Linked DNA regions of Homo sapiens: region 1 is linked to region 2. Evidence: fine-mapped expression QTL. A gene starts in region 2. The other region holds a variant in brackets. All regions are shown on one strand. Distances are from middle to middle. Region 1 overlaps BATF3 (basic leucine zipper ATF-like transcription factor 3). Region 2 holds the start of FLVCR1-DT (FLVCR1 divergent transcript).

Region 1 (2,903 bases), 170 kb before region 2:
GTCATTTCTGGGCTGCTCTACTAGACAAATCCTCTTTGTTGGGCATGGTGACTCATGCCTGTAATCTCAGCACTTTGGGAGGTCAAGGTGGGAGGATCACTTAAGGCCAGGAGTTTGAGACCAGCCTGGGCAACACAGTGGGACCCCATCTCTAAAAAAATTTGTTTTAACTAGCCAGGTGTGGTGATGCACACCTATAGTCTCAGGTACTCAAGAGGCTCTGCCAGGAGGATTGCTTGAGCCCAGGATTTCGAGGCTGCAATAAGCCATGATTACAGCACTGCACTCCAGCCTGGGTAACAGAGAAAGATCCCAACTCAAAAAAACAAAAAGAGGAAGAAGAAAGAGAGAAAGAAAAAAAAAGAAAGAAAGAAAGAAAGAAAGAAAGAAAGGAAGGAAGGAAGGAAGGAAGGAAGGAAGGAAGGAAGGAAGGAGAGAGAAAGAGAAAGAGAGAAAAGAAAAAAAAAAAGAAAAAGCTCTTCTTTGTACTGATCCAAACACTCTCACTTTCAAATGTACCTGTTGGGTTTGGTTCCATTTAATAGAACCACATCTAGTAGATCCAATGCTTTTTTCAATATCGCAGTTCTTGAAATGTTAGGATACAGCATCTCAGGTCCTCTGAGTTCCTTGCATCAGGCTCTTCTTTGCCATTCTGGGGACCCTCACCAACACACACTCCAATTTACCAGAATATCTCAGAAAATGTTGCTCCCAGGATGCAATGCATGGTTCTGGAGACCATGCCAAGGGCAAATGTGTGGCAGTGACCTCTCCTGTGCTGGGCCCAAGCCGCTGAGGATTCTCTCTGAGCCTGCAGAGAAATGCAAGCTTTATCTGCATGTGCTGCTTCTCCGTCCGTCCTTGGATGATGATGGATGCTATGGGGCTTAAGGGTAGGATTTTACATCCATCTCCACTGAATTTCATTCCTTATTTGGACATCTTCCAGACCAGCAAAATTGCAAAATCTTTTGGAATCTCAATTGCATCGTCTCATGAATGGTGACAGCACACAGCTTTAAGCCATCCACTAACTTAACACACAGGTCTTCCTTTTCTTCATCCAAGTCATTAATAAGTTCTACAAAAAATAGCCAATGGCAGAGCTCTACGGCATGCCAATAGAGACCCTCTCTAGGCTGGCAATCTCATTTAAATCTTGCTGAAATGTTTTCGTTCATTTCTAGTTTATAGTAAGGCTTTGTTGTACCATGCACACCATGCATTTCCCAAGCTCAGGGCCCAATTGCGTTACTCATCACACTTTCTCTCTGACTAGTAATTTTAAGGGAGTATCACTAAAGAAATGTGATCTTATAGCCCCCAAAGACACATGCAAATTCTCAACCCTGCCCCTTTGCTCTTGCAGTTATCCTCAACTGGACTGCCTTCCTCCTTTTCTGCATGGGTCCAGCTCAAGCCCACCACCTCCAGGAAGGCTTCCCTGACCACAGCACCTACAGGAACCACATCTTTTATTATGTGTTCTATTCTATTTTGTATCATATTCAATTTCACTCATATGAA[G/A]TAATGTCTCCCCCCAAAGATCAGAAATGTAAAGGACCTAGGAACTTCTGCTACTCCTCTCCTCTACCCCCTGCCTGATGCGCCACAGCACCAGCACCTACATGCTCAGTGATTCCTCAGCCCTCATCCTCTGTTTCTTCTTTAACCCCATCCTTTCCTTTCAGAAGGGACTCTCAGCATCTTCCTCCCTTTAAGAACCAAGGGGTCTGGCGGGGCTGCCTGTAGGGTCTATCTGAGCCATTCCCCAGGCAGGTTCCCAGGGTGGTCTGGAGCACTCTCCAGGGCAGCAAGCTGTTCTGGGGCCATGTGGCTTCACCAGTACACTGGCCCCATTCTGCCTCTATCCTCCTCCCTGCCTCCCACTCCCAAGCCTTCATGCCCTCCTTTGACCTCTGACAAGCTCTAGTTCTGGAGTGAGAATTCTGTCTACAAATCCAGCCATAAGCTCTCCGTGGGCAAGGGGAGAGTCTGGATGGGAGGATGGGATGGAAGCCAGGGCGTCAAGGGAATCATGCAGGCAGCAGAGGGATGAGAAAAGCTGCAGCACACACACACGTCTGCAAACACACACTCACACACTCTCATACACATTCACACACTCTTACACACATACACATATACACACACTCACACACGTCCGCAAACACACTCACACACTCTCATACACAGCCCGACACACACACTCTCACACACACACACTCATACACAACCACAGACACACACACAGATACACACAGTCACACACACATCTGCAAACACACTCTCATACCCAGCCACAGACACTCTCACACACATACACAATCAACACACAGTCACACAAACACTCTCACAGTCACACACATACAGTCATACACACATACATACACCTCACACAGTCACACACACTCACAAAAACTCAGACTCACATGCAGACTCCCCACATTCACATTCACATACACACTCACACACACACACTCCACCCTGCAGCAGGAAATGCCCTTGACTTTCAAGTAAAATGGAGAGTACATTTGAATAGTTCCAATGTGCTAACATTTTAAGTAGATTCCAAAGGACAAGAAGCCCTCTTCCTTTGGTAGAATATTCCAAGCTGCCTTTCTACATATACTGAATTCCGCAGCAAGACGCTCTGAGCTTCCCAGTTTTGTCTCTGGAAGCCGTGCGCAGCCCTGTGGCCTGAGGCTTCCCTGAGGTCCACTGCCCTCCCCCAACCCATGCTTAGAGTCTTCAGAGCCGCCCGACAGGTGCCCCACGGGCCCCTCATCTGCCTTCTCCATAAGGACTTTCTCTTCTAGGATTTAAGCATTACTCATAAACCCGCTGAGGGACTTTTATTGAGCTGAGGGAATAACAAGAAGAGAAGAAGTCAAAATCTT
Region 2 (2,903 bases):
ATGAAACGTGGTCCTGTCTGCCCTAAAGCCAGGGTCTCACCGACAAGGACAGCGATGCTGGGGCGAGAAATAAAGTTCGTCCTGGGCCTGCGTACGGTACAGCGCCCTTGGGAAGCCCTTGTGGAGTTAAGGGTGATGCCCACTTCTTTGTCTCCCTCATTCTGTTTCGGTGGCTCTCTCGTTCCCAGTTCCAAGCTGCCCACTTGTTAGAGGAGCCACTGCTTACCAGGCATCTGGTTTAATAAAACATGGCTAGAGCGACTGCATGTTAAAGTGAGTAACTAGGCACTCACAAGGCACCTATAAGGTTAATGCTAAAGGTCTGAAAATAGCCGCATTCTAAGCTGACCAACAATTATAATTACACAATATTTATGGCCATACAGGACATCTCCCACCAAGTCTGCGGAATTGTCCAGATGTCCTGAGTTTTTTTTTTTTTTTTAGACAAGGTCTCACTTTGTCGCCCAGGCTAGGCTGGAGGGCAGTGTGGTGCGATCTCAGCTCACTGCAACCTCCGCCTCCCAGGTTCAAGTAGTTCTCCTGCCTCAGCCTCCTGAGTAGCTGGGACTACAGGCATGCACCACCACGCCTGGCTACTGGCTTTTTTTTTTTTTTTTTTTTTTTTAAATAGATGGCATCTCAGTATGTTGCCCAGGCTGGTCTCGAACTCCTGGGCTCAAGGGAGACTCCTGTCCGGCCTCCCACAGTGCTGGGATTACAGACGTGGCCACCGAGCCCGGCCCAGCCCTCTACTCAGAGATAACGTCAATGCGCAGGCTTAGGTTGAAGGATTAATGGTCATTAGTGCACCAACAGCCCCTACCTTTAGTGGGCACATCAGCACATTCCACGATTAATCACAGCTCCTCACAGCTGCCTCTAAGTAGTGACACTACCGAAGGACGGGAGTTCCTCCTCCTGCAGTCTGAGGACTTGCACTCTCTAACGGAGTAGATTCCAATAAACTTGCTTCCTTCACTGCGCTCTGTGACTCGCCTCCAATTCTTCCCTGAAGTAGACCCAAGAACCCTCTCTTGGGGTCTGGATCGAGACCCCTTTTTCCAGCAACACAACCCGCGGGGCCGCCTCCCGCCCACCCTCAGGTGCAGGAGACCCCGGGCCATGCATCCTTCCGGGCAGGAAAATGTCAGCCAGCGCTCGCCGGCCGCTTTCCTCCCCCGCCTCCCGAAGTTCTCGCCCGGTAGCTCCCCGACTGGCTCTCGCGCCGGACAAAGGCGCACGCTGATTGGCCGGAGGGCCGTAGTCATGCAGGACGCGCGACTCTAGGGGCGGGACCAGACAAGGGGTGACTGCCGCGCGGCGCGGGGGAGGAGACCTTCATCTGTTCACGCGGTAGCGCGGATTGCGGTTCGCGGCGCGCGCCACCGGGGAAGGAGCGGTGGGCCGAGGGGTTGGAGGTGGGGCCCCAGGAGGACCTCGGGCTGTGGGCCGGGAGAGCGGAGTCGGGGAGTGGGGCGGGGGAGCGAGGTGGCGCCGGGGAGCCTGGGATATGGCGCGGCCAGACGATGAGGAGGGGGCGGCGGTGGCGCCCGGACACCCGCTCGCGAAAGGATACCTCCCGTTGCCGAGGGGCGCGCCCGTTGGGAAGGAGAGCGTGGAGCTGCAGAACGGGCCCAAAGCGGGCACCTTCCCGGTGAATGGGGCCCCCCGGGACAGCCTCGCTGCCGCCTCGGGAGTTCTGGGCGGGCCTCAGACTCCACTGGCCCCAGAAGAGGAGACCCAGGCCCGGCTGCTGCCTGCGGGCGCGGGAGCTGAGACCCCGGGGGCCGAGAGCAGCCCGCTGCCCCTTACGGCGCTCTCCCCGCGGCGCTTCGTGGTGCTCCTGATCTTCAGCCTGTACTCGCTGGTCAACGCCTTTCAGTGGATCCAGTACAGCATCATTAGCAACGTCTTCGAGGGCTTCTACGGTGTCACCTTGCTGCACATCGACTGGCTGTCCATGGTGTACATGCTGGCCTACGTGCCCCTCATCTTCCCGGCCACCTGGCTGCTGGACACCAGAGGCCTGCGGCTCACCGCCCTGCTGGGCTCCGGCCTCAACTGCCTGGGTGCCTGGATCAAGTGCGGCAGTGTGCAGCAGCATCTCTTCTGGGTCACCATGTTGGGCCAGTGCTTGTGCTCGGTGGCCCAGGTGTTCATCCTGGGCTTGCCCTCCCGCATCGCCTCAGTGTGGTTTGGGCCCAAAGAGGTGTCCACAGCTTGTGCCACCGCCGTGCTGGGCAATCAGGTAAGTACTGGAGTGGTAGGTGAAAGTCAGATCCTTAAAAGACCGGAAAAAGTCATAGGCCGTGAGAACTATGGCCTGTATGGATGAACTGCCCCAGGAGGTATTTGTCTATAAAAGAGGAGATGAAGCCGTTGAATAGGAGGCCGTCTTGGATTGAAGTGGGCTATAAATTTCTTTGTAAGGACAAAATTTTCCAAACGACCTTGTCATCTTGCTTTGAAAATTACCTATAAAATAATTAACTGGGCCGGGCGCGGTGGCACACACCTGTAATCCCAGCACTTTGGGAGGCCGAGGTGGGTGGATCACTTCAAGTCAGGAGTTCCAGACCAGCCTGGGCAACATGGGGAAACCCCGTCTCTGTTAAAAATACAGAAATTAGCCAGGCCTGCTTGCGGGTATCTGTAGTCCCAGCAACTCAGGAGGCTGAGGCAGGAGAATCTCTTGAACCCGGGAGGTGGAGGTTGCAGTGAGCGGAGATTGCACCTTTGCACTCCAGCTTGGGTGACAGAGTGAGACTCTGTCTCAAATAATAATAATAAACTGTAACCATAATAATAATAATAATAATTAACTGTATTGGCTTGTGTATGCCTAACATGGAAAATTTGTCAATGCAGTAACGAACAAGACTTGGGGTATTATTTTTGTC

The links. PIP is the estimated chance that this variant, and not a neighbour inherited with it, causes the effect.
Region 1: its variant is the best candidate, but not a certain one, in a credible set for the expression of FLVCR1-DT in aorta (GTEx, PIP 0.61).

What each region holds. Positions count from the first base shown.
Region 1 is chr1:212,687,608-212,690,510 of GRCh38, forward strand. The region is part of intron 2 of BATF3 (basic leucine zipper ATF-like transcription factor 3); the gene reads right to left. Among named protein-coding and RNA genes, the nearest start is that of BATF3, 11 kb to the right of the region's middle. The variant G/A (reference allele first, on the strand shown) is at 1,531.
Region 2 is chr1:212,856,940-212,859,842 of GRCh38, forward strand. It overlaps FLVCR1-DT (FLVCR1 divergent transcript), which reads right to left and starts at 1,199. Exons shown (of 2, transcript NR_027286.1): 1 at 827-1,199. It overlaps FLVCR1 (FLVCR choline and heme transporter 1), which reads left to right and starts at 1,336. Exons shown (of 10, transcript NM_014053.4): 1 at 1,336-2,251. The coding sequence starts at 1,514. RefSeq lists silencers at 1,437-1,496, 1,577-1,786.